3 separate regions of the Homo sapiens genome follow, and regions 2 and 3 are each linked to region 1. Evidence: fine-mapped expression QTL. A gene starts in region 1. Each other region holds a variant in brackets. All regions are shown on one strand. Distances are from middle to middle. Region 1 holds the start of CERS5 (ceramide synthase 5). Region 2 overlaps CERS5 (ceramide synthase 5). Region 3 overlaps FAM186A (family with sequence similarity 186 member A).

What was found. PIP is the estimated chance that this variant, and not a neighbour inherited with it, causes the effect.
Region 2: its variant is the best candidate, but not a certain one, in a credible set for the expression of CERS5 in blood mononuclear cells (TOPMed, PIP 0.76).
Region 3: its variant is the best candidate, but not a certain one, in a credible set for the expression of CERS5 in amygdala (GTEx, PIP 0.86).

Annotation. Positions count from the first base shown.
Region 1 is chr12:50,164,663-50,175,603 of GRCh38, forward strand. CERS5 (ceramide synthase 5) reads right to left here and starts at 2,707. Exons shown (of 10, transcript NM_147190.5): 1 at 2,439-2,707. The coding sequence starts at 2,635. LOC124902931 (a long non-coding RNA gene) reads left to right here. Exons shown (of 2, transcript XR_007063304.1): 2 at 364-961. RefSeq lists enhancers at 2,054-2,193, 3,084-3,243, 3,295-4,056 and silencers at 2,334-2,483, 2,584-2,983.
Region 2 is chr12:50,130,604-50,135,603 of GRCh38, forward strand. It overlaps CERS5 (ceramide synthase 5), which reads right to left. Exons shown (of 10, transcript NM_147190.5): 9 at 3,943-4,099; 10 at 1-91. Among named protein-coding and RNA genes, the nearest start is that of COX14, 21 kb to the left of the region's middle. The variant G/A (reference allele first, on the strand shown) is at 2,428.
Region 3 is chr12:50,367,002-50,377,942 of GRCh38, forward strand. The region is part of intron 1 of FAM186A (family with sequence similarity 186 member A); the gene reads right to left. Among named protein-coding and RNA genes, the nearest start is that of FAM186A, 24 kb to the right of the region's middle. The variant G/A (reference allele first, on the strand shown) is at 6,253.

The DNA.
Region 1 (10,941 bases):
CCCATCCACCTGTACTCCTCTGACACTGGAGCACCATAGAAACACTCAGATAGAATTCCCACAGGTAAAGGATCCCTTCCAGCAGCTCTGCCAGGGGATATATGTCTTCAGCCATCTGAGGGAACACTTTGGAATCTCAAGAGATACGTAAGTTTATATAAAATGGGTGTTTATAAGCAACAAAACTATTTCCTCTTACCACTAACATGGGGAAATTTCCATATTGGCACATATTTATATGAAAAGCAGAGATGTTTTTCTATGAAAATCACCTTTTAAAAAAAAATTTGTCCTGACTTGTGTATTTTCCTTTGTAGTGATTACATTGCCTTCCTCCTTTTTTTTTTTGGCCCTCATATACAGAGACTATGGAAGAGAGTACCTGGATCTAGTTTATTCCAAAGACAGACAAGCAGTTTGTGCCTCCACTCCAGGATGACTAACTACAACGATTACACGTAAAAAGACAAAACAAGGCCGGGCGCGGCGGTTCACGCTTGTAATCCCAGCACTTTGGGAGGCCGAGGCAGGCGTATTACGAGGTCAGGAGATCGAGACCTTCCTGGCTAAGACGGTGAATCCCCGTCTCTACTAAAAATACAAAAAATTAGCCGGACATGGTGGCGGGCGCCTGTAGTTTCAGCTACTCGGGAGACTGAAGCAGGAGAATGGCGTGAACCCGAGAGGCGGAGCTTGCAGTGAGCTGAGATCGCGCCACTGCACTCCAGCCTGGGCGACAGAGCGAGACTCCGTCTCAAAAAAAAAAGAAAAAGAAAAAGAAAAAAAAAAAAACCTTGCTACACTAAGTTCCTGAGGGCCAAGGAAAGCCATTTAGATCTTTGGGTTTCATTTGCTTCACTTAAGCATCTTTATTTTTGCACTTGAACGTCTGGCAGAGCATTTTGATGATGATGATGCACAAATACTACGAATAAATGGATGCGTGACTAGCTAAATAGAACACAAGATTTTGAAAGACTTGAGTCAAAAACAGTAGGCAAATCAAAGAAGCAATCCCAAACAGATGCTATCTTTCAGAAATTAACAGATTATTTCACCTGCAACATATTCCCATCCTAGAAAGGGCATTCCTGCATTACAATCATTTATGCTTGGATAAAGGCAAAACGAACAGATGTCCAAGAACCACCCTCATTACCTGAGGCCTATGGCAGAAACATGTCTCCTTTCTTGGAGTCTGAGTAGACTTGATCAAAATCACCCACAGGTATAAATTCACATTATAATATCACACACCAAAGCCTCAGTGAATATCTTTATCTTGGACAAACATATGATCCATTCACTTAAAGGTGAAATCATGTGGTTGAACAAAGTATACTGCAATTCTGCTAAACTCATTTAGAAGCTGGCTCAAGGCCGGGTGCGGTGGCTCACGCCTGTAATCCCAGCACTTTGGGAGGCAGAGGCGGGCGGATCACTTGAGGTCAGGAGTTACAGACCAGCCTGGCCAACATGGCGAAACCCCGTCTCTACTAAAAATACAAAAAGTAGCCGGGCGTGGTGGCGCGTGCCTGTAATTCCAGCTACTCGGGAGGCTGAGGCAGGAGAATCGCTTCAACAGGGGAGGCGGAGGTCGCGGTAAGCCGAGATCGTGCCATTGCACGCCAGCCTGGGCAACAAGAGCGAAACTCTGTCTCAAAAAAAAAAAAAAAAAAAAGAAAAGAAAAAAGAATCTGGCTCAATATAGCTGTCCTCTGATAAAGCCCTGTGGCTCTCCTCCATCCCTTCGAACACACTCCTCCTTCCATTTCAGGCCCCAAGGCCTGTTCTGCAACTAATCTGACATCTTTCCATTACTTTGGAAGCCTAGGGCTCCACCACACCCTATCCCAACCAGATTTCTACCCTCCTACCAACAAACGTGCATGAGTTGACATACCAAACCAACTCTTAGGGCCAAACTAATCCTGTTCCCCCCAATTCTCGGAAACTCAAGCGTCCTAACAAATCTTAAGAGTCTGATGAGTCCATTCCTTTCCCTTGGAACGTCTGGCCCTTGCGTTGACCCCTCGGCTTCCATGGTCACAACTAGCTCTGGTTCTCCTGGCCCCTTCCTATCCCTCTCTTCGGGGCCTCTGCCAGAGCTCACACTGAACCTGTTTCCTCATCTGTAGGACCCTTGGAGGTTGGGAGGAGGCCTATATGACCCCCCCAATCCAACTCCGGATCTAACATTGAAGGGGCCCAGCATTCCCCTAGACCCTCACTCTTTCTCTTGCCCACGCCCCAAACTCCTTCTCCATCTAGGCTACCACCTCGCCCACGCGCCTAGCATCACCCGCCGCGGCCCAAGCTCCCCCAGCCCCTGCTTCCGGGCTTTCCTTGCAGTTCTGCTTCCGGCCCTCGGCCCTTCCCACAGCGGGGCGCCCCCGGCCCGCGCCCGGCCCCCGAGCCGCTCGCTCCCGGGCTCTCACCGCTCGAAGAGCAGCCTCACGAAGAAGATGCCCGCCGCCAGCGGGAACACCGAGAGGATGTGCCGGCCGCGGGGGTAACCGTAGCCGTCGGCCGGCCCCTCCAGATCAGCCCAGCTCACGTTCTCGGGTAGCCAGAAGCGCTCGCTCCACAGCCAGCCCCACAGCAAGCTTAGGGGTCCCTGCGCTGCTGTCGCCATCTTACGCCCACCCCGAAGCCACCGCCGCCACAAGCGTCAGCTGCCGCCACAGCCAACGGAACCCGCGGGGAGGCGGCCCCAGGGCGGGGCCCGGCCGGCGGCCACCCCCTTCCGGCCCCTTCTGGTCACTGCCACGGATCCGCCCGCCTCCCTGGCAGGGCCGGGCCTCTTCACCGCCCATCTCTCCTCCCGGCCCACTTCCCTCACTGCAACCCGGGGACCGCCTCCGGGGATCCACGCCCCTTCCCGAGCCTCTGACTCGCCCAGCCCGGCCCTGGGACCACGCCTCGGGCGGCCCTGGGCCCGCCCTCTTTTGCTGCTGGTCTAGGCCACGCTTCTACTCCTCCCTCACTCTTCCATCCAGCTACGGCCACACCCCTTATTTCAGGCCTAGCTCCTTTACGGGGACATTCTCCTTTCTCAGCCTGTTGGAATCGAATCCGTTCCGGCTCCCACCCAGGCGGTACCTCTGTCTCCACTCCCGGAGGCCAGATCGATCTCTCAGGTCAGGGCTTCTCTTGGATGTCAGCTGGTCCTGCCCACTACTGTCCGCCACTAGAGTTCTTTTCGCTCCCAACCTTTTCTTCCCTTCGTGCCCCGTGACCTCAGCCTACTTTCACTGCTTTATCCCTTAAAAATTAGTCACTTTTCCTCAGAAAAAATGGACTTAACAGTTTACAAAAGGCCGGGCGCGGTGGCTCACGCCTGTAATCCCAGCACTTTCAGAGGCCGAGGCTGGCGGATCACCTGAGGTCAGGAGTTCGAGACCAGCCTGGCCAACATGGCAAAACCCCGTCTCTACTAAAAATACAAAAATTAGCTGGGCCTGGTGGCGCTGTGCCTGTAATCCCAGCTACTCGGAAAGCTGGGACAGGAGAATCGCTTGAACCTGGGAGGCGGAGGTCGCAGTGAGCCGAAATCGCGCCATTGCACTCCAGCCTGGGCGACAGACCAAAGACTCCGTCCCAAAATAAAAATAAAAAAAGTTTACAAAAATCCTTTTATTCTTCTCTTGGGGAAAAGGAAATGGAAGAAAAACAAAGTGAAAAGGGAAGCACTCAAAAAGTATACGTAAAGGCAGGCCGGGTGTGGTGGCTCACGCCTGTAATCCCAGCACGTTGGAAGGCCAAGGCGGAAGAATCACCTGAGGTAAGGAGTTCGAGACCAGGCTGGCCATGGTGAAACCCCGTCCCTACTAAAAATACAAAAATTACCCGGGTGTGGTGGTGCATGCCTGTAATCCTAGCTACTCGGGAGGCTGAGGCAGGAGAATTGCTTGAGGCGGAGATCACAGTGAGCCGAGACCACGCCATTGCCCTCCAGCCTAGGCAACAGAGCGTCTCAAAACAAAAACAAACAAAAAAAGGCCGGGCGCGGCTCACGCCTGTAATCCCAACACTTTGGGAGGCCGAGGCGGGCGGATCATGAGGTCAGGAGATCGAGACCATCCTGGCTAACACGGTGAAACCCCATCTCTATTAAAATACAAAAAATTAGCCAGGCATGGTGGCGGGCGCCTGTAGTCCCAGCTACTTGGGAGGCTCAGGCAGGAGAATGGCGTGAACCCGGGAGGCGGAGCTTGCAGTGAGCCCAGATTGCGCCACTACACTCCAGCCTGGGCGACAAAGTGAGACTCGTCTCAAAAAAAAAAAAAAAAAAAGTATATCTAAAGGACCTAAAGGCAAAACAAAATAAATAGCCAATGTTTGATGAGGTTTCCTGTGTGCCAGGCACTGCATGGAACATTTTACACAGGTTATTTCACTCCTTCACCCTATAAAGTTGATCTTGTTATCCCCACTGGATAAGTAAACTGAGGTCCAGTGAGGCCAAACAACTTGCCCAAAGTTATGTAGGTAAGAAGTGGTAGCTAGTGTTAAGTCAAGTTTAATCTAAAGCTGCCTCCTTACATATTTAAGTTCGGCCTAAAGGTTTTCTGTACATTGTGAACTGTAACAAGTGGAGGTGTAAATCGAACGTAGACCACACCAGTGCCAATCACTGAATTTTGGCCAATCAAATGTAGCCAACTGTTCCAACCACGTTCAAATGAGACAAACGCTGATCTGTAACCAATCTGGTTGTTTCTGTACCTCACTTTCATTTTGCTGTCCATAAATCTTCCACCACGTGAATATGCTGGGTCTCTGTGGATATGCTGGGTCTCTCTGAATCTGCTGTGATTCAGGGGCTGCCCAATTTGAGAATCATACATTGCTCAAACTCCTTTAGGCTGGGCACGGTGGCTCACGCCTGTAATCCTAGCACTTTGGGAGGCCGAGGCAGGCGGATCACAGGTCAGGAGATCGAGACCATCCTGGCTAACATGGTGAAACTCCGTCTCTACTAAAAATACAAAAATTAGCTGGGCGTGGTGGTGCGTGTCTGTAGTCCCAGTTACTTGGGAAGCTGAGGCAAGAGAATCGCTTGAACCCAGGAGGCGGAGGTTGCAGTGAGCTGAGATAGCACCACTGCACTCTATCCTGGGCAACGGAGTGAGACTTTGTCTTGGAAAGAAAAAACAAAACAAACAAACAAACAAAAAACTCCTTTAAATTTGGCTGTTTTGTTTGTTTGCATGTTTTTTTGTGAGAAGGAGTCTCACACCCAGGCTGGAGCGCAGTGGTGCCATTTCTGCTCACTGCAACCTCCACCTCTGGGTTCAAGAGATCCTCCCTTCTCAGCCTCCCGAGTAGCTGGGACTACAGACACGTGCCACCACACCCGACTAATTTTTGTATTTTTTGATAGAGCCTGGGGTTTCACCATGTTGGCCAGGCTGGTCTCGAACTCCTGACTTCAAGTGATCTGCCTGTCTCAGTATCCCTGTTGGGAATGAAGTTTTTGGTGTTGCAAAAAGAAAAGAAAAGAAAACAAAACAAAAACAAAAAAACACGGGAACAAATGATCTCTCAGCAAGGAGAGCTTTACTTTCTGCAGAAAGGGTGCTGCTACTCAAAAGCTGTCTAGCCATGAGAGCACACCGAACAAAGGAGACAGAGTTATTTATAATCTGAGGTGTCTACCCTACTGCTGTGTCCATTTTCCATTGGCTGGAATAGGACCTCACATTTTACACTTTACCTGATTGGCTATTAGTTTAAAACTTTTAAAATTGGTTAAGGGGAACAGAACAAAGAAAGAAAAGGAAGTTGCCCAGGGATCATTAAGGAAGCATCACCAAATAAGGAATGGCATGCACTGTGGGCTGGGGCTTGTCTAGTTCTGTCCAGGCATGCAGGAGCAATCTAGGACAGCTGATTTGGAATACACACACACACACACACACACACACACACACACACACACATACATACACACACACACACACACACAGTGGATAGCAATCTTATAGTAAGAAATTGTGACTTTTTATAATCTTTGAAGAACTTTCCGATTTCTCACACTCCCAAAGTGCTGGGACTACAGGCGTGAGGCCACTCCGCCCAGCCTAAAGTGTTTTTTTTGTTTGTTTGTTTTGTTTTGTTTTTTGTTTTTTGTTTTTTTTTGAGACGGAGTCTCGCTCTGTCGCCCAGGCTGGAGTGCAGTGGCGGGATCTCAGCTCACTGCAAGCTCCACCTCCCGGGTTCACGCCATTCTCCTGCCTCAGCCTCCCAAGTAGCTGGGACTACAGGCGCCCGCCACTACGCCCGGCTAATTTTTTGTATTTTTAGTAGAGACAGGGTTTCACCGTTTTAGCCGGGATGGTCTCGATCTCCTGACCTCGTGATCCGCCCGCCTCGGCCTCCCAAAGTGCTGGGATTACAGGCGTGAGCCACCGCGCCCGGCTTTTTTTTTTTTTTTTTTGAAACGGAGTCTCGGTCTGTAGCCCAGGCTGGAGTGCACTGGCGGGATCTCGGCTCACTTCAGCCTCCGTCTCCTGGATTCAAGCTATTCTCTCCCCTCAGCCTCCCGAGTAGCTAGGATTACAGGCAGGCTCCACCATGCCCTGCTAATTTTTGTATTTTTAGTAGAGATTGTGTTTCGCTATGTTGGCCATGGAACTCCTGACCCAAGTGATCCACCCGCCTGGGCCTCGCAAATGGCTGGGATTACAGGCTTGAGCCACCACGCCCGGCCGAATTTTTTTTTTTTTTTTTTTTTTTTTTGAGACGGAGTCTAGCTCTGTCGCCCAGGCTGGAGAGCAGTGGCGCGATCTCGGCTCACTGCAAGCTCCGCCTTCCAGGTTCACGCCATTCTCCTGCCTCAGCCTCCCTAGTAGCTGGGACTACAGGCGCCCGCCACCACACCCGGCTAATTTTTTTGTATTTTTAGTAGAGACGGGGTTTCACTGTATTAGCAGGATGGTCTCAATCTCCTGACTTCGTAATCCGCCCACCTTGGCCTCCCAAAGTGCTGGGATTACAGGCGTGAGCCACTGCGCCCGGCCTAATTTTTGTATTTTTATGAGACGAGGTTTCACCATGTTGGCCAGGCTGGTCTTAAACTCCTGACCTCAGGTGATCCGCCCGCCTTGGCCTCCCAAAGTGCTGGGATTACAGGTGTGAGCCACCGAGCCCAGCTGGTTAGCTTCATTTTAGTTCAGTGCCTCTCAAACTTTAGCATCAGCTCAGATATCAGCTTGTCCCATCTCGCATAAAGAGAGTTTCTTTAAGTTCCTGGACCCCATCCAGAGAGATTCTGCTTTCATGAGTTTGGGGGTAGGATCTATGAATTTGCATTTCCCATTTCTAACAAACTCATAGGTGATGCCACTGCTGCTGTTCTGTGAACCACTGCCTGAAGCCACTTCCATCCAAACCCAGGAATAGCTTCATGGTAACTACACTATATTAAGATACAGTTTTAAAGGGCTGGGCAGGGTGGCTCGCGCCTGTAATCCCAGCACTTTGGGAGGCTGAGGCAGGCGGATCACCTGAGGTCAGGAGTTCAAGACCAGCCTGGTCAACATGGCAAAAATCCACCTGTACAAAAATATAAAAATTAGCTGGGCATGGTGGCAGGTGCCTGTAGTTCCAGCTACTCGGGAGGCTAAGGCAGGAGAATCGCTTGAACCCGGGAGACGGAGGTTGCAGTGACCCGATTGTGCCACTGCACTCCAGCCTGGGCAACAAATGGAGACTCCATCTCAAAAAAAAAAAAAAAAAAAAAAAGAAAAGATATATTTTAAAAGGAAGTAATAAACCCAGCCCCATGGGATTTTCAATCAGCATCTCAAGGAACAGAGGACATACTAACTTAGCATACAGGAACCACCAGTACACAATGATCTTGGTCTGAGACCCTATTCATGATTTTTTTTTTTTTTTTTTTTTGAGATGGAGTCTTGCTCTGTCACCCAGGCTGGAGTGCAGTGGCGCCATCTCAGCTCACTGCAACCTCTGCCTCCCGGGTTCAAGCAATTCTCCTGCCTCAGCCTCCCAAGTAGCTGGGATTACAGGTGCACGCCACTACATCTGGCTAATTTTTGTATTTTTAGTAGAGACGGGGTTTCGCCGTGTTGGCCAGGCTGGTCTCCAACTCCTGACCTCAGGTGATCTGCCCACCTTGGCCTCCCAAAGTGCTGGGATTACAGGCATGAGCTACTGTGCCTGGCCCCTGTTCATGATTCTATCCCCAGAAAAATGAGCATGTACCAATTCCCAGTCTCTTGGCTGTTGGGAAACATTGCTAATGAAATATGTAATGCAAAGCAAATTTACTTTCACCTTGCCCAAGAGTGATCCAGCAAGTCACTGGAACCAAGCTGGCCTTGTAGCAGTCATGAGCAGAGCCTCCTTAACCATCATAAGTCCCAAGCTGGCCCCTTTTTCTGCTTTACCAACAGAAAAGCTGTCATCACCCTATAGTCACCAGTGATATACCAGGTCCAAACAAGGTAGCCTTCATTTAGAGAGCTAAAAGAACAAATGATTAATGCTTTTTCTGTTTGGCTGCTTTTGTTTTCTAAGAATGTTCAGTGTTATCTGGTCATTCTTTTGGCTAGGACATCCTTTCTTTATATTGACTCTGGAGCTATTCCTTGTTCCTACTCTGTGTACCCATGATACGTCTATATCTTAGCCCTTGAAAGGCATAGAAAAGAGTTTTTTTGTTTTTTTTTTTAGATGGAGTCTCACTCTGTTGCCTAGGCTGGAGTGCAGTGGTGCAATCTCGGCTCACTGCAGCCTCCACATCCTGGGTTCAAGTGATTCTCCTGCCTCAGCCTCCTGAGTAGCTGGGACTATAGGCACGTACCACCATGCCCAGCTAATTTTTGTATTTTTAGTAGAGATGGGGTTTCACCATGCTGACCAGGCTGGCCTTGAACTCCTGAGCTTGTGATCCACCTACCTCAGCCTCCCAAAGTGCTGGGATTACAGGTGTGAGCCACCGCACCCAGTCAAAAAGAATTCTTCTGAGGGTAATCTCAGTCCCCAAGGGGTGGCCCACTCAACTGATATCCACAGGTACTTAAACTTTTTTGTATAAAGTCAGTGCATAATGTGAGTACCATGTGGATGGATTATAGTAAAACGCAAGTCACAGAAGTTCAAGCCAGGATTGGATATTTTATATCAGTGGGAGCTTTTGGATTAACGTGAATATGGATTTTTTTTTTTTTTTTTTTGAGATGGAGTTTTGCTCTTGTTGCCCAGGCTGGAGTGCAATGGCATGATCTTGGCTCACCGCAACCTTTGCCTTCCAGGTTCAAGCGATTCTCCTGCCTCAGCCTCTCTAGTACCTGGGATTACAGGCACCTGCCACCATGCCCGGCTAATTTTGTATTTTTAGTAGAGACGCGGTTTCTCCATGTTGGTCACGCTGGTCTGGAACTCCCAACCTCAGGTTATCCTCCCGCCTCTGCCTCCCAAAGTGCTGGAATTACAGGCATGAGCCACCACACCCGGCTTTTTATTTTTTTGAGACGGAGTTTCGTCGTTGTTGCGCAGGCTGGAGTGCTATGGTGTGATGTCCGCTCACTGCAACCTCTGCCTCCCGGGTTCAAGCGATTCTCCTGCCTCACCCTCCTGAGTAGCTTGGATTACAGGCATGTGCCACCACGCCCGGCTAATTTTGTATTTTTAGTAGAGATGGGTTTTCTCCATGTTGGCCAGGCTGGTCTCCAACTCCTGACCTCAGGTGATCCGCCCGCCTCGGCCTCCCAAAGTGCTGGGATTACAGGCATGAGCCACTGCGCCCGGTCTGAACATGGATCTTTAAATGACTCAGTGGGGGCAAGAGCAGAAAGTAGTATCCTACCAACCACTCAGAAAACCAGGCAAGACTCTAGAAAACACAGGGATCCTGGAAAATGTAACAGATGACTCAAAAAGCATGCCTTAACTCTCCAAGGAAATCCACATTTCAACCCTACCAATTAAAAAGAAAGCCTGAACAATTGGAACAGTTGCCTCTACAGGCAAGGATATCAATCAATCAAAAATGCATCTGCCCACTTGGTGTGAACAGTGATTTTTTTTTTTGAGACGAAGTCTAGCTCTGTCGCCCAGGCTGGAGTGCGGTGGCGCGATCTTGTCTCACTGCAAGCTCCGCCTCCCGGGTTCACGCCATTCTCCTGCCTCAGCCTCCCAGGTAGCTGGGATTACAGGCGCCCGCCACCACGCCCGGCTAATTTTTTGTATTTTTAGTAGAGATGGGGTTTCACCATGTAAGCCAGGATGGTCTTGATCTCCTGACCTCGTGATCCGCCCGCCTCGGCCTCCCAAAGTGCTGGGATTACAGGCGTGAGCCACTGCACCCGGCCAAACATTGATCTTAAAACAGCAACAACAACAAAAAAAAAAAAAAAAAAAAAGAAAAGAAAAAAAAGAAAAAAGCGCCAGGCACGGTGGCTTACACCTTACGTAATCCCAGCACTTTGGAAAGCCGAGGTGGGTGGTTCACGAGGTCAGGAGTTTGAGACCAGCCTGGCCAACATGGTGAAACCCTGAGTCTACTGAAAATACAAAAATTAGCCGGGCGTGGTGTCAGGCGCCTGTAATCCCAGCTACTCAGGAGGTCTGAGGCAGGAGAATCACTTGAACCGGGGAGGCGGAGGTTGAAGTGAGCCGAGATGGTGCCACTGTACTGTAGCCTGGGCGACAGAGCAAGACTCGGTCTACAAAAAAAAAAAAAAAAAAAAAGCATCTGCCTAAAGTGAAAAACAAGTCCATTTTCAGCAGAGACATTTGGAAATCCATTCAGCATGCTAGGCATAATTGTAAGGTGAATTATTCAATGTTGAGTGTTATAAACAATAAAAACCACCACTAGATTTCGAATTGGTAAAATACCTCATTTTGAATGCACACATTAATTCTCTTGCCAAGTTGCCTGCAATTTTCCAGAAAAATTTGTCTTCC
Region 2 (5,000 bases), 37 kb before region 1:
TGGAGCTACTGTCACAGGGACTTTTTGTGCAGGTGGTCACATCTTCTTCCTCTGAGCTGCTCTCCACATCACTGCGATCATCCTTCGATACCTGGGTGGGATGAGACCAAAGACAGAAAAGTGAGGAAAGAACTGTAAGACACCTAAGCTCAGAGACCCAGGTGTGGGCACTGTGTTCCCAGTCTGGTCTGCTTTCTGATGACATCTAACTCAAAGAAGTATTGTCTGGACTATGGCTACTGTTGTGACTATGCTTTACCTGCTTTCTAGTTTTCTCCCTTGTCATCTCCAATTCTGTTCTCTGTGGAATTGAAGCTACTTTGGTAGAGGAGTGTGTCTTTCAGGACCAGCCTAAGAGAACTGACATCATTCACTGAGACCTGGTTTAGGTTTCAGACACCCTTTCTCTTCTTCCACTTCAAAGAACAGGGAAGGCCAACACGAACAATACGTATGACTGTCAGCAATGCTTCTATCTTCTGGTGGTTGTGGACAATGCATTTATTCGTATTGGTTATGCTGTTTTGCTTTATCCCCAAAGCTGATCCATAACAGGCCTTTTTTAGTAGTTTCCCACTCCTGGGCTCAACTACCACTATCCTATGACACTGTTTTCCAATCTTCTTCCCTTTCCCAATAGCAAGATCACTTTTCTTATGAAACTTCAGCATCCCTGGCTGGGCGTGGTGGCTCACGCCTGTAATCCCAGCACTTTGGGAGGCCGAGGCAGGCGGATCACAAGGTCAGGAGTTTGAGACCAGCCTGAGCAACATGGAGAAACCCTGTCTCTACTAAAAATACAAAAATTAGCCGGGTGTGGTGGCGCGCACCTGTAATCCCAGCTACTCAGGAGGCTGAGGCAGGAGAATCTCTTGAACCCCGGAGGTGGAGGTTGCAGTGAGCTGAGATCGTGCCACTGCACTCCAGCGTGGGCGACAGAGTGAGACTCCATCTCAAAAAAAAAAAAAAAAAAAGAAAAAAAAAAAGAAACTTCAGCATCCCCAAGATACACAGTATAGTGAAAACACAAATGGATTGGCAGTCAATGAGAAAAGAATCCCAGTTCTAATCATGCTACCATCTGTGAATGCTTATTAACCTGGGTTTTTTTGTTTTGTATTATTTTCAAATGAAGCATTTGGATTACAGCAGCATTTCCTAATCTAAACTATCCTGCATATCAAGCAAAGTATTTCAATTTCTCCACCATGAGCCAGGCACAGTGGCTTACACCTATAATCCTAGCACTTTGGGAGGCTGAGGGAGGAGGACAGCTTGAGCCCAAGAGTTTGAGACCAGCCTGGGCAACATGGAGAGAGCCCTGTCTCTACAAAAAATAAAAAATGACAAAATCAGTTGGGCATGGTGACATGCACCTGTAGTCCTAGCTACTTGGGAGGCTGAGGCAGGAGCATCTCTTGAGCCCAGGAGGTCGAGGCTGCAGTGAGCCATGATTGCGCCACTGTACTCCAGCCTGGGCAATGGAGCAAAACCTTGTCTCTAAAAAAAAAAAGGGCCGAGCATGGTGGCTTACGCCTGTAATCCCAGCACTTTGGGAGGCTGAAGTGGGCGCATCACCTGAGGTCGGGAGTTCGAGACCAGCCAGACCAACATGAAGAAACCCCGTCTCTACTAAAAATACAAAAAAATTAGCCAGGCGTGGTGGCGTATGCCTGTAATCCCAGCTACTCAGGAGGCTGAGGCAGGAGACTCGCTTGAACTGGGCAGGCAGAGGTTGCAGTGAGCCAAGATCACGCCATTGCACTCCAGCCTGGGCAACAAGAGCTAAACTCTGTCTCAAAAATAAATAAATAAAAATTAAAAAAAAAAAATTACCCTGGACTCTAATAGTAAAGAACAGAAATCCAGTGAGACCTGTGTCGGACTTCTGACCTCCAGAACTGAAGGATAATAAATGTGGTTTAAGTAAAGGAGAGAAGGAAGTGAAAAGGAACACAGCTGTAACAACTGTTGCCAAGGAGGTGGGCATTTGCTTTGGATCAGCTCCTTGAATTTGTGTTGGATGGGTCTTCTACAGTTGATTATAGCTGTTGGCCTCTGAACTTAGATGACTAACTGATTACCTGACCTTTAGGAAATTTCCACTAGAGGGCAGAGTGTCTCTAGATTTGAGGTAAACAGAGACTCAAGAAAAACAAAAAAAAGTAGACTCAATTCTTGCCTCAGTTTAGGAAAAAATCTGGCAACTGCAGCTCTAGTCAATAATGGCCCCGAAAAGTCAGGAGAGAGGGCATGCTCTGAGACAAACACAAGGGAACAGAAAGGAGAGCAGGAGGAAAGAGAACCACATTCAGATGGACATGCCTCACTGAATACTAGAAGCACAGATACACTTACATGCAAGAGATGAAACTGTCCAGCTCCCGCCAGGCATAGAAAAAAGGAAGGAGGTGAGGAAAGAGTGGA[G/A]AGTACAGGGTCTAATCCTTCCTGGACAGGTCACCTAGTCAGGAAAGAAAAGCAGGAGAGAACAGAGATGTCCAGTAGCTACAGCAAGATGCACAGGCACACTGAGCAAGTTCTGAGCCAATGGCAGCTATAAGGAATAATGATGCAGGAGATCATCAATATCTAGGCCACATTCCATCACTTGGTCCTAGTATCAGTACCTGCTCAAGCAGAGCCCCTCCCACTTGGGATTCTGTATTCCTTTAGGCTGAAATCCCTAGCCCTTTGACTACAGTCTGACTGCTTCAAAACTTGCAAAGTTCAATTATGAGTTTATCATTAAGTGGCACCTTTCTTTCGCTCTTGGCATAAGATGGGTATTTGAAACACTACATACCCATTCACTTAGGACACTTGCCTCATACACTAGTGGGGTGAGGTGGGTATTTAGTTCCTTATATAAACCATATCTTGAATATCACAGCATGGTCACCTTGTGGTGGCTTGTGAACTACCACACACCACTTCTAGGCAACTTAACAATCTGCTTTTATACAGTTTATATGGTTCTGCATATGATTTCCTTTGAAAAGGGCCCCATGTCAAAAAGAAAAATATGAAATCCACTGAAGCAGGTAGGTAAGGGGTAGGAAATGGTTGAGGCCATCTCTTAAAAAACTCTTAACCCTATCATCCTTTAACAAAAGCCATTCCTAAGGGACAGGAAGAAGGTAGAACTTTCCTCTTGCGTCTAAGTCACATCTTAAAAGGTAAAACAGGCAGGCCAGGTGCGGTGGCTCACGCCTGTAATCCCAGCACTTCGGGAGGCCAAGGTGGGCAGATCACAAGGTCGGGAGTTAGAGACCAGCCTGGCCAACATAGTGAAACCCCGTTTCTACTAAGAATACAAAAATTAGCCAGGCCTGGTGGCATGCGCCTGTAATCCCAGCTACTAGGGAGGCTGAGGCAGGAGAATCGCTTGAACCCAGGAGGTGGAGGTTGTGGTGAGCCAAGATCGTGACATTGCACTCCAGCCTGGGCAACAGAGCGAGATTCCATCTGAAAAAAAAAAAAAAAAAAGGTAAAACAGGCTTGGTGTGGTGGCTCACACCTGTAATTCCATCGCTTTGGGAAGCCGTGGTGGGAGGACTGCTTGAGGCCAGTAGTTGGACATTGGCCTGGGTAACATAGTGACACCCTATCTACAAAAAATAAGAAAATTAGCCAGGCGTGGTGGTGCACACCTATAGTCCCAGCTACTTGGGAGGCTGCAGTGGGAGAATCCAAGCCCAGGTGTGAGGCTGCAGTAAGCTATGATCATGCCACTGAACTCCAGCCTGGGTGACAGAGCAAGACCTTGTCTCTAAAATAAAAAAGGCAAAACACTTACCGAAGAGGCGAAGACTTTGGAGCCCTAGGCTTTTTGCTTGGCCTGCTTGAGTAGATGGGGCTCACCAGGTTTGATGGAGAGAGAACGTCTGTTGAGTAATCCCTATCTTCCATACCCAAAAGAAAGAAGCCATCTTTCATCCTCACCTTTCCCCTGATCAAGGCTTTCAAAGCAATCCGTGCAATTAGGTAGGACCAGATGACATGCAGAAGCTGTAGGGTCAGCAGCAGGCCATTGAGGAGCCACCATGAAGCATAAGGCCCGATTATCTCCCAACTCTCAAAGAGGGTCGTGTTCAGAATCCTAGAAGAGGGAGGCCAATAGTCAGATTCTAGAGTCAAAGCTCAGCAGACAGGGATGAAGCTGAGTCCTGGGGATGCAGAGCCCTGTGTGTTTTCCTACCAGCCCTTTTATCAGCTGAAGTTCCAGGGACCGTCATCCACAGTAAGAAAATAAAGAAAGGGAGGAGCCTGTTGTGTTTTCTATCCTTAGGGACAGAGAAAGATATATAAATCTTAGGAACTGATGGATTAAGTCACATTATTAATCACTTCAAATATCCAGAGTTTCACGAAATTAGGACAGCAGTGGGACTCTAATCCTATGAATGACTGAGCTCCTCAGGCACATATAGGATAGGACAGTAGGTAGCTGATTCCCATAGAGCAGTGAATGTAAAAGTGAAAGGAGACAGGGAGAGAGAGGAGAGGGAGGGAGGGAGAGAGAGGAGAGGGAGGGAGAGAGAGAGGAGGGAGGGAGAGAGAGGGGAGGGAGGGAGAGAGAGGAGAGGGAGGAAGAGAGAGAGAGGAGAGGGAGGGAGAGAGAGGAGGACAGGGAGGGAGAGAGAGAGGAGGGAGGGAGAGAGGGGAGGGAGGGAGAGAGAGGAGAGGGAGGAAGAGAGAGAGAGGAGTGTGTGTGTGTGTGTGTGTGTGTGTGTGTGTGTGTGTGTGTCAGGGTTGGGACCAGAGCAGGAACACAAGCAAGAAGGGACTGAGAATTGTATCAACAGTGCAAAAGAAGTCAAAGGAATTACTTAGGCATAAAATGAGGACTGTTCCTCAGAGATGAGTCAGTCCTGAGAAGCCAACCAAGCCGGGTACTCTGAGTCTGGATCCGACCTTGCTAGAAATACGGTCTGAGGCAGCAGAGGTCCTATGAGAGTCCACAGAAGGTCAGCACAGGCTAAGGTAAAAGCAGGGCAATA
Region 3 (10,941 bases), 200 kb after region 1:
AGCCCCGGTCTTAACACAAACAAAAAACATATACAAAAGAAACTAGAAATAGAAGAAAACTTCTTCAACATAATAAAGGCCATATACGAAAAGCCCACAGGTTATAATATATTCAACAGTGAAAGACTGAAAGTTTTTCCTCCAAGATTAGGAACAAGGCAAGGATGCCCACATTCACCATCTATCTAACCTGGTATTGGAAGTCCTAGACAATCAGGCAAGAAAAAGAAATAAAGGCCAGACACGGTGCCTCACGCCTGTAATCCTAGCACTTTGGGAGGCCGAGGCAGGCGGATCATGAGGTCAGGAGATCGAGACCATCCTGGCTAACACTGTGAAACCCCGTCTCTACTAAAAATACAAAAAAATAGCTGGGCATGGTGGCAGGTGCCTGTAGTCCCAGCTACTCGGGAGGCTGAGGCAGGAGAATGGCGTGAACCTGGGAGGCAGAGCTTGCATGAGCTGAGACTGTGCCACTGCACTCCAGCCTGGGAGACAGAGCGAGACTCTGTCTCAAAAAAAAAAAAAAAAAAAGAAAAGAAATAAAAGGCACACAATTTGGAAAGGAAAAAGTAAAATTATCTCTGTTCATAGATAACATGATCTTAAATTGTAGAAACCCTACATATGTAGAAAACTCTATATATGTAGAAAGCCCTAAGGATTACCCTCTGTGTGCATGTGCGTGCACACACACACACACACACACACAAACACACTATTAGAACAATAAATTCAGCAAAGTTGCAGGGTAAAACATACATACAAATCAGTCACTTTGCTAACTACACTAACACTGAGCAATATGAAAAAGAAATTAAGAAAACAATGCCATTTATAATAGCATCAAAAATAATAATATATTTAGAAATCGCAGCTCATGCCTGTAATCCCAGCACTTTGGAAGGCCGAGGCGGGTGGATCACCTGAGGTTGGGAGTTCAAGACCAGCCTGGCCAACATGGTGAAACCCTGTGTCTACAAAAATACAAAAATTATTCAGCTATGATGGTGGGTGTTTGTAATCCCAGCTACTCAGGAGGCTGAGGTGGGAGAATCACTTGAACCTGGGAGGCAGAGGTTGCAGTGAGCTGAGATCACGCCACTACACTCCAGCCTGGGTAACAGAGAGCGACTCTGTCTCAAAAATAATAATATTGAGAGGCCGAGACAGGTGGATCACTTGAGGTCAGGAGTTCGTGACAAGCCTGGCCAACATGGTGAAACCCCATCTTTACTAGAAATACAAAAATTAGCCAGCATGGTGGTGGGCATTTATAATCCCAGCTACTCAGGAGGCTGAGGCAGGAGAATTTCTTCACCCGGGAGGTGGATCCTGTAGTGAGCCATGATTGCGCCACTGCATTCCAGCCTGGGCAACAGAGCAAGACTCTGTCTCAAAAATAAATAAATAAATATTTTAAATAATAATAATAAATTTAGAAATAAACTTACCCAAGGAGGTAAAAGACTTGTTGTTTTCACTACAAAATGTTACTGAGAGAAATTAAAGAAAACACAAGTAAATGGAAAGATATCACATGTTTATGGATTGGAATATTTAATATTGTTAAGATGTCAATACTACCCAAACCAATCTACAGATTAATGCAATCCCTATCAAAATCCCAATGGCTTTTTTTTCTTTTGCAGCAATAGAAAAATTCATCCTAAAATTTACATGGAATCTCAAGGGATCCTGAATGGCTGAAACAATCTTGAAAAAGAATAACAAAGTTGGAGATCCCACATTTTCTGATTTCAAACTTATTCCAAAGCTACATTAATCAAAATAATGTGGTACAGGCATAACGACAGACATATAACCTGATGGAATAGAATAGAGAGCCCATAAATAAACACCAAGTTAACAGTATGTGTATAGTATAGTATATTCATAGCATAAGGTTAAATTATTTTCCATAAGGATTCTAAGGCCATCCAATGAGGAAAGGACAGTCTTTTAAAAAAAAAAAAAACACACACAAATGTTGGTGGGAAAACTGAATACCTACACATGAAAGAATGAAGTTGGATCCTTATCTTATATCATATAAAAAATTAAACTCAAAATAGATTAAAGACCTAACACTTATAAAACACTTAGAAGAAAACATAGGAGAAAGGCTTCATGGCATTGGATTTGGCAATGATTTCTTGGTGACATGACACAAAATCACATGCAACAAAAGTAAAAATAGATAAATGGGCTGGGCACGGTGGCTCACTCCTGTAATCCCAGCACTCTGGGAGGCTGAGGCAGGCGGATCACGAGGTCAGGAGATCGGACCATCCTGGCTAACATGGTGAAACCCCGTCTCTACTAAAAATACAAAAAAAATTAGCCAGGCATGGTGGTGGGCGCCTGTAGACCCAACTACTCGGGAGGCTGAGGCAGGAGAATTACTTGAACCCGGGAGGCAGAGGTTGCAGTGAGCTGAGATCGAGCCACTGCACTCCAGCCTCAGCCTGGGCGACAGAGTGAGACTCCGTCTCAAAAAAAAAAAAAAAAAAGATAAATGGACTATATCAAAGTTAAAAACATTTGTTTGTCAAAGGACAAAAATCAACAGATTGAAAAGTCAACCTAGGAAATGGGAGAAAATATTTGCAAATTGTATATCCACTAAGGGTTAATATCCACAATATATAAATAACTTGTACAAACTCAATGTCAAAAAAAGAAAAACCAAAAAACCCAAATAGGCTGTGCACTGGTGGCTCACCCCTATAATCCCAGGACTTTGGGAGGCTGAGGTGGACAGATCAGTTGAAGTCAGGAGTTTGAGACCAGCCTGGCCAACACTGTGAAACCCCATCCCTACTAAAAATGCAAAATTTAGGCCGGGCGCGGTGGCTCACGCCTGTAATCCCAGCACTTTGGGAGGCCGAGGAGGGTGGATCATGAGGTCAGGAGATCGAGACCATCCTGACTAACACAGTGAAACCCCGTCTCTACTAAAAATACAAAAAATTAGCCGGGCGTGGTGGTGGGCGCCTGTAGTCCCAGCTACTCGGGAGGCTGAGGCAGGAGAATGGCGTGAACCCGGGAGGCGGAGCTTGCAGTGAGCAGAGATTGCACCACTGCACCCCAGCCTGGGCGACAGAGCGAGACTCCATCTCAAAAAAAAAAAAAAAAAAAAAAAAGCAAAACTTAGCCAGGCATGGTGGCACACTCCTGTAATCCCAGCTACTTGGGTGGCTGAGGCACAAGAATCACTTGAGCCTGGGAGGTAGAGGTTGCAGTGAGCCGAGATTGTGCCACTGCATTCCATCCTAGGCGACAGAGTGACACTCCATACCCCCCAAAAAACAAAAACAAAAACCCAAATAAACCAATTTTAAAATGGGCAAAGGATCCAAAAAAGATATACAAATGGCCCAAAAATATATGAAAATATGTTCAACGTAACTAGTAATTAGGAAAATGTAAATCAAAACCACAATGATATACTACTTCATACCCATTAAGATGGCTACTATGAAAAAAACAGAAAATAACAAGTGTGGGTGAGGCTGTGCAAAATTGGAACCCTGTGCACTGCTGGTAGGAATGTAATATTGTGCAGCTGCTGTGAAGAAAAGGATGACAGTTCCTCCAGATATTAAAAATAGTATCACTATATGATCTAGCAATTGTTCTCTGTGTATACATCCAAAAGAATTATAAGCAGGGTCCCTAAGAAATATTTGTACACTCATGCTCATAGTGTCGTTATTCACAATAACCAAGAGGTAGAAGTAACCCAAGTGCCCATTGACAGATAAATGGATAAACAAAATGTGGTATATATTTATATATATACACAATGGAGGCCAGGCACAGTGACTCATGCCTGTAATCCCGGCACTTTGGGAGGCTGAGGTGGGCAGGTCACTTGAGGTCAGGGGTTTGAGACCACGCTGGCCAACACGATGAAACCTCACGTTGCACTAAAAAACACAAAAATTAGCCAGGCATGGTGGCGGGTGCCTGTAATCCCAGCTACTTGGGAGACTGAGGCAGAAGAATCGCTTGAACCCAGGAGATGGAGGTTACAGTGAGCCAAGATTGCACCACAGCACTCCAGCCTGAGCAACAGAGCGAGACTTCATCTCAAAAAAATAAAATTTAATTCAATTTAATTTTTTTTTTTGAGGCAGAATCTTACTCTGTCACCTAGGCTAGAGTGCAGTGGCATGATCTCGGCTGACTGCAAACTCCACCTCAGGGTTCAAGTGATTCTCCTGCCTCAGCCTCCAGAGTAGCTGGGGTTACAGGCGCCTGCCTCCATGCCCAGCTAATTTTTGTATTTTTTAGTAGAGACGGGGTTTCACCATCTTGGCCAGGCTGGTCTTGAACTCCTGACCTCATGATCCATCTGCCTCTGCCTCCCAAAGTGTTAGGATTACAGGCGTGAGCCACCGTGCCCGGCCAACTTAATTTAATTTTAAAATATACATAATAGAATGTTATTCAGCCTTAAAATTGAAGGATATTTTGACATACACTACAATATGGATGAACCTTGAACAGACTATGCTGAGTGAATAAGCCAGTCATAAAAAGACAAATACTTTATGATTCCACTTAAATGAGGTATCTAGAATAGTTGAATTCATAGAAACTAAGTACAGTTGTGGTTTTTAGGGGATAAGGAGAAAGGGAAATGGATATTGTTGTTTAATGGATATAGAACTTCAGTTTTGAAAGGTGAAATAGTTCTGACTTTGGTTGCAAAATAATGTATGGCAATATATATTCACACTTAAAACTATTGTACTATATACTTAAAAATAATTAAGGCAGTAAATTTTATGTATATTTTACCACAATTAATTTTTTTTTTTAGACGGAGTTTCGCTCTTATTGCCCAGGTTGGAGTGCAATGGCATGATCTTGGCTCACGGCAACATCGGCCTCCTGGGTTCAAGCGATTCTCCTGCCTCAGCCTCCCAAGTAGCTGGGATTACAGGCATGCGCCACAATACCCAGTTAATTTTGTATTTTTAGTAGAGACGGGGTTTCACCATGTTGGTCAGGCTGGTCTCAAACTCCTAACCTCAGGTGATCCACCTGCCTTGGCCTCCCAAAGTGCTGGGATTACAGGCGTGAGCCATCGTGGCTGGCCCAATTAATTTTTTTTTTAATTTAAAAAGGAATAATCAAACGTTAAGTATGGAAATACTGGAATCAGAAAAAGAGGTGATGCAGTTGTAGCAAATCTAACTTAAGTCAAGAACACAGGAGACGGGAGACAAAGTTGGCCAAGCCAAGTGATAAAGAATAACATCACAACTAATACATAGTATGGTGGTTAAGAAATAAATACGCCAGGTGCAGTGGCTCAAGCCTGTAATCCCAGCACTTTGGAAGGCCAAGGAGGGTGGATCATGAGGTCAGGCGTTCAAGACCAGCCTGGGCAACATAGTGAAACCCCCGTCTCTACTAAAAATACAAAAAATTAGCCGGGCATGGTGGTGGGCACCTGTAATCCCAGCTACTTGGGAGGCTGAGACAGGAGAATTGCTTGAACCTGGGAGGCAGAGGTTGCAGTGAGCCAAGATTGTGTCACTGCATGCCAGCCCGGGCGACAGTGTGAGACTCTGTCTCAAAAAAAAAAAAAGAAATAATACTAGGCCGGGCACGGTGGTTCACATCTGTAATCCCAGCACTTTGGGAGGCCGAGGCGGGTGGATCACTTGAGGTCAGGAGTTGGAGACTGACCTGCCCAAGATGGTGAAACCCCATCTCTACTAAAAATACAAAAAATTAGCTGGGCATATTGGTGGGTGACTGTAATCCCAGGTACTTGGGAGTATGAGGCAGAGAATTGCTTGAACCCCGGAGGCAGAGGTTACTGTGAGCCGAGATGGTGCCACTGCACTCCAGTCTCCTGGGCGACAGAGCAAGACTCCGTCTAAAAAAAAAAAAAAAGAAAAAAGAAAGAAAGAAGGAAGGAAGGAAGGAGGAAGGAGGGAGGGAGGGAGGGACGGAGGGAGGAAGGAAGGAAGGAATGAAAGAAAGAAAGAAAGAAAGAAAGAAAGAAAGAAAGAAAGAAAGAAAGAAAGAAAGAAAGAAAGAAAGAAAGAAAGAGAAAAGAAAGAAAGAAAGAAAAGAAAGAAAGAAAAACTAGGCTGGGCAACGGTGGCTCACACCTGTAATCCCAGCAGTTTAGGAGGCCGAGGTGGGCATATCACGAGGTCAGGAATTCAAGACCAGCCTGGCCCACATAGTGAAACCCCGTCTCTACTGAAAATGCAAAAATTAGCC[G/A]GGTGTGGTGGCACGCACCTGTAGTCCCAGCTTCTTGGTAGGCTGAGGCAGGAGAACTGCTCAAACCCGGCAGGCAGAGGTTGCAGTGAGCCGAGACCACACCATTGCACTCCAGCCTGGATGACAGAGTAAGACTCCATCTCAAAAAAACAAAACAGAAAAAGAAATAATACTAATAGCTCACAAACTTTTCCAAAAAGTTGAAGAGGAAGGAGCAATTCCTGACTCATTCTTTGATGTCAGCGTTACCCTGATATCAAAATCAGACAGATGTAAAAGAAGAAAACTACAAACCAATATCCCTCACCTCATGAAAATAGTCACAAAAAATGCTTCATAAGATTTTCATACCATCTCACACCAGTTAGAATGGCAATCATTTAAAAGTCAGGAAACAATAGGTGCTGGAGAGGATGTGGAGAAATAGGAACACTTTTACACTGTTGGTGGGACTGTAAACTAGTTCAACCATTGTGGAAATCAGTGTGGCCATTCCTCAGGGATCTAGAACTAGAAATACCATTTGACCCAGCCATCCCATTACTGGGTATATACCCAAGGGATTATAAATCATGCTGCTATAAAGACACATGCACACGTATGTTTATTGCAGCATTATTCACAATAGCAAAGACTTGGAACCAACCCAAATGTCCAACAATGATAGACTGGATTAAGAAAATGTGGCACATATACACCATGGAATACTATGCAGCCATAAAAAATGATGAGTTCATGTCCTTTATAAGGACATGGATGAAATTGGAAATCATCATTCTCAGTAAACTATCGCAAGAACAAAAAACCAAACACCGCATATTCTCACTCATAGGTGGGAACTGAACAATGAGAACACATGGACACAGGAAGGGGAACATCACACTCTGGGGACTGTTGTGGGGTGGGGGGAGGGGGGAGGGATAGCACTGGGAGATACACCTAATGCTAGATGACGAGTTAGTGGGTGCAGCGCACCAGCATGGCACATGTATACATATGTAACTAACCTGCACATTGTGCACATGTACCCTAAAACTTAAAGTATAATAATAATAAAGAAAGAAAGAAAGAAAGTTCTAAATAAAAATCTTTATAGAAATTAAAAAAAAAAGATTTTCAAAAATTCTGGGACAGATAGGTGACCAATAAAATAAAATAGAAAATAGAAACAAACAATATCCTTAAAAAATAGCATCATGAAAAAGTGGGATTTACCCTGGTATGCAAGGCTGATTCAAAATTTGATAATTTCTAAATGTAACTCACTATGTCAACGGATTAAAGAAGAACCATTTATCGCCTCGGTATATACAGAAAAAGAAGTTGACAAAATTCAACATTCATTCATGATTTCTAAAAGAAGCTCGATAATAAATGAGGAATAGAGGGTAATTTCCTCAACCTGATAAAGAGCATTTACAAAACATTTACAGCTAGCATCATACTTAATGGTAAACGTCTCAAGTGCTCTAAAGGTTCTGTTCTAATCACTTCTGCTCAACATTGGATAAATGTCCTAACCAATTCAATAAGGTCAAAAAAAGAAATACAGGAAAATGGATTGGAAAGAGAGAAGCAACATGGTTTCTATTTACAACAAAAAGTTTGTCCATGTAAAAACTCCCAAAGAATTTACCAAAGAGGCCAGGAGCAGTGTCTCACACCTGTAATCCCAGCACTTTGGGAGGCCAAGGCTGGCAGGTCACTTGAGTACAGAAGTTCAGGACCAGACTGGCCAACATGACGAAACTCCCTTTCTATCAAAAATACAAAAATTAGCCGGGCGTGGTGGCATGTGCCTGTAGTCCCATCTACCTGGGAGGCTGAGGCATGAGAATCGCTTGAACCCAGGAGGCAGAGGTTGCAGTGAGCCAAGATCGCTTCTCTGCACTCCAGCCTGGGCCACAGAGTGACACTCCATCTCAAAAAATAAATAAATAAATACAAATAAAATAAAACAAACCAAAAACCATTTATTTACACTAGCGATATACAATTACAAACTGAAATTTGGCCGAGTGTGGTGGCTCATGCCTGTAATCCCAGCAATTTGGGAGGCCAAGGTGGGTGGATCACCTGAGGTCAGGAGTTTGAGGCCAGCCTGGCCAACATGGTGAAACCCTGTCTCGACTAAAAATACAAAAAATTAGCCAGACATGTTGGCACACACCTATAATCCCAGCTACTTAGGAGGATGAGGCAAAAGAATTGCTTGAACCCGGGAGGCAGAGGTTGCAGCGAGCCGAGATTGCACCATTGCACTCCAACCTGGGCAACAAGAGCGAAGCTCTGTCTCAAAAAAAAAAAAAAAAAAGTAGCCAGGTATGGTGGTGCATACCTGTAATCTCAGCTAATCGGGAGGCTGAGGCAGGAGAATCGCCTGAACCTGGGAGGCAGAGATTGCAGTGAGCCGAGATTGTGCCACTGCACTCTAGCCTGGGTGACAGAGGGAGACTCCATCTCAAAAAAAAAAAGAAAAAGAAAAAGAAAAAGAAATTGAAATTTAATAAAACAGTGTCACAGGATCCTATGGGTGTCACTTTGCCAGCCAGAAACCTCTGTGGCCAGCGACGCCTCTGCTTGAGTTTTGCTCATGCCCACTGGGCTCATTCCACCTACTAGGCCCAGCAAGCTGCCCTCAGATCGTGATACCGGCCCGGATCCCATGCCTGCCAAGGGTGAGCCAGGCATGGAGCACCGAGGGGTGTGTGAGCAAGCAAGTGCAGGGTCTGGCCACTGTGCACCCCCACTGTAGCAGCAGGGCAGGCATCTCCAGGTGCTGGCACAAGCACTGGCTCTGGGAGAGGCTGTGGCTGGACCAGACATACCACAAGCAGGTTCTGCTGCAGGCACCAGTGTCTGGATGAGGGAAACTCAGTGGTGCCCAAAAGCTCAGAGGTCTGGGCCCTCAGAAGGATCACCACTTTTCACTCACACGGTCCGGGGGCATGTCACAACCCATAGCTCAGTGAGCAAGCTGGGGATGTGTTACAGCTCTTTTAGCTCCTGCTGTTCAGTCCCAAGTTCCTGTCTCATGTCTAGGAAGAATGAGTTTACATGGACAACTGAAGGGTGAGCAAGGTGGAGAGGAGCTTTACTGAGCAACAGAAGAGCTCTCAGCAGAGAGGATACCTGAAGTGAGTAGCTCCTATCCGCAGGCAAGTCATCCCAACAAGGGTAGAGGAGACTTGAAGTGGGTAGCTGCTATCCAAAGGCAGGTAGGCCTGATGAGTATAGGCCACTCAAAGTGGATAGCTTCTGTCTGCAGGCAGGTAGTCCCTAGGAGTCTCTGAGTCTGGCTAAGTCTGGGGTTTTTATGGGCTCAAAAGGGAGGAAGTGCATGCTGACTGGTCCATGAGCAGCCATGGTGGGCCTGGTAAAAGTACCATCTGATCGGCCAAAAGGCATCAAGGAAGTTCTCACTCTGGTCCTGGACTCCACCCTAAACTGGCAATGTGGGTCAAACCTCCTTTTACCTCTCTCTCTCTCTCTCTTTTTTTTTTTTTAGACAAGGTCTTATTCTGTTGCCCAGGCTGGAGTTCAGTGATGCAGTCACAGCTCACTGCAGCCTAGGACTCCTGGGCTCAAGAGATCCTTCCTCCTTCACCTCCCAAGTAGCTGGGACTACAGACGAGTGCCACCATGGTCAGCTAATTATTTTTTATTTTTATTTTTTTTAGAGATGGGATCTCACTGTGTTGCTCAAGCTGGTCTGAAACTCCTGGGCTCAAATGGTCCTCCCACCTCAGCCTCATGAGTGCTTGGGATTATAGGCATGAGCCACTGCACCCAGCAGAACTGTGTTTAAAGATGCACAATTTAAAGGGGCAATCTTCTGGAAGTGGAAAAAACACAAGGTTGGAAGAAACACCATTTGGCAATTAGGTAGTAAAAAGGGGGAAAAAAGAACTACAATCATCAGGACAGTATGGTATTGGTGTAATGACGGACAAATACATGAATGGAATAGAATAGAGTGTTTAGAAAAGGACTCACATACATGTGGTCAATTAATTTTTGACAGAGGTGCAAATGCAACTCAGTAGAGAAAGGACAGTCTTTTTAACAAGTGGTGTTCAAATAATTGAATATCCACAAACCAGAAGTGAAAAACAAGCTTTTATTCATATCTTGCACAATATTTCAAAAATTTAGTCAAATGAATCTATGAGCTAAATATAAAATTTAACACTATAAAACTTCTAGAAGAAAACATGGGAGAAAATACGAACTTGGGTTAAGGCAATGATTTCTTTGATATGATAACGAAGGCACAACCAATGAAAGTACAACACAAGGCCAGGCGCAGTGGCTCACGCCTGTAATCCTAGCACTTTGGGAGGCCGAGGCAGGTGGATCACCTGAGGTCAGGAGTTGGAGACCAGCCTAGCCAACATGGTGAAACCCTGTCTCTACTAAAAATACAAAAATTAGCCGGGCGTGGTGGCTGGCACCTATAATCCCAGCTACTTAGAAGGCTGAGGAAAGAGAATTGCTTGAACCCGGTGGGGGCAGAAGTTTCAGTGAGCCAAGATCGTGCCACTTCACTCCAGCCCGGGCAAAAGAGCAAAACTCCACCTCAAAAAAAAAAAAACAAGAAAAGAAAGAAAGTACAACATGATACATTAGATTTCACAAAAATGTAAGACTTCTGCAATATGAAAGATACTGTTAAGAAAATGAAAAGTC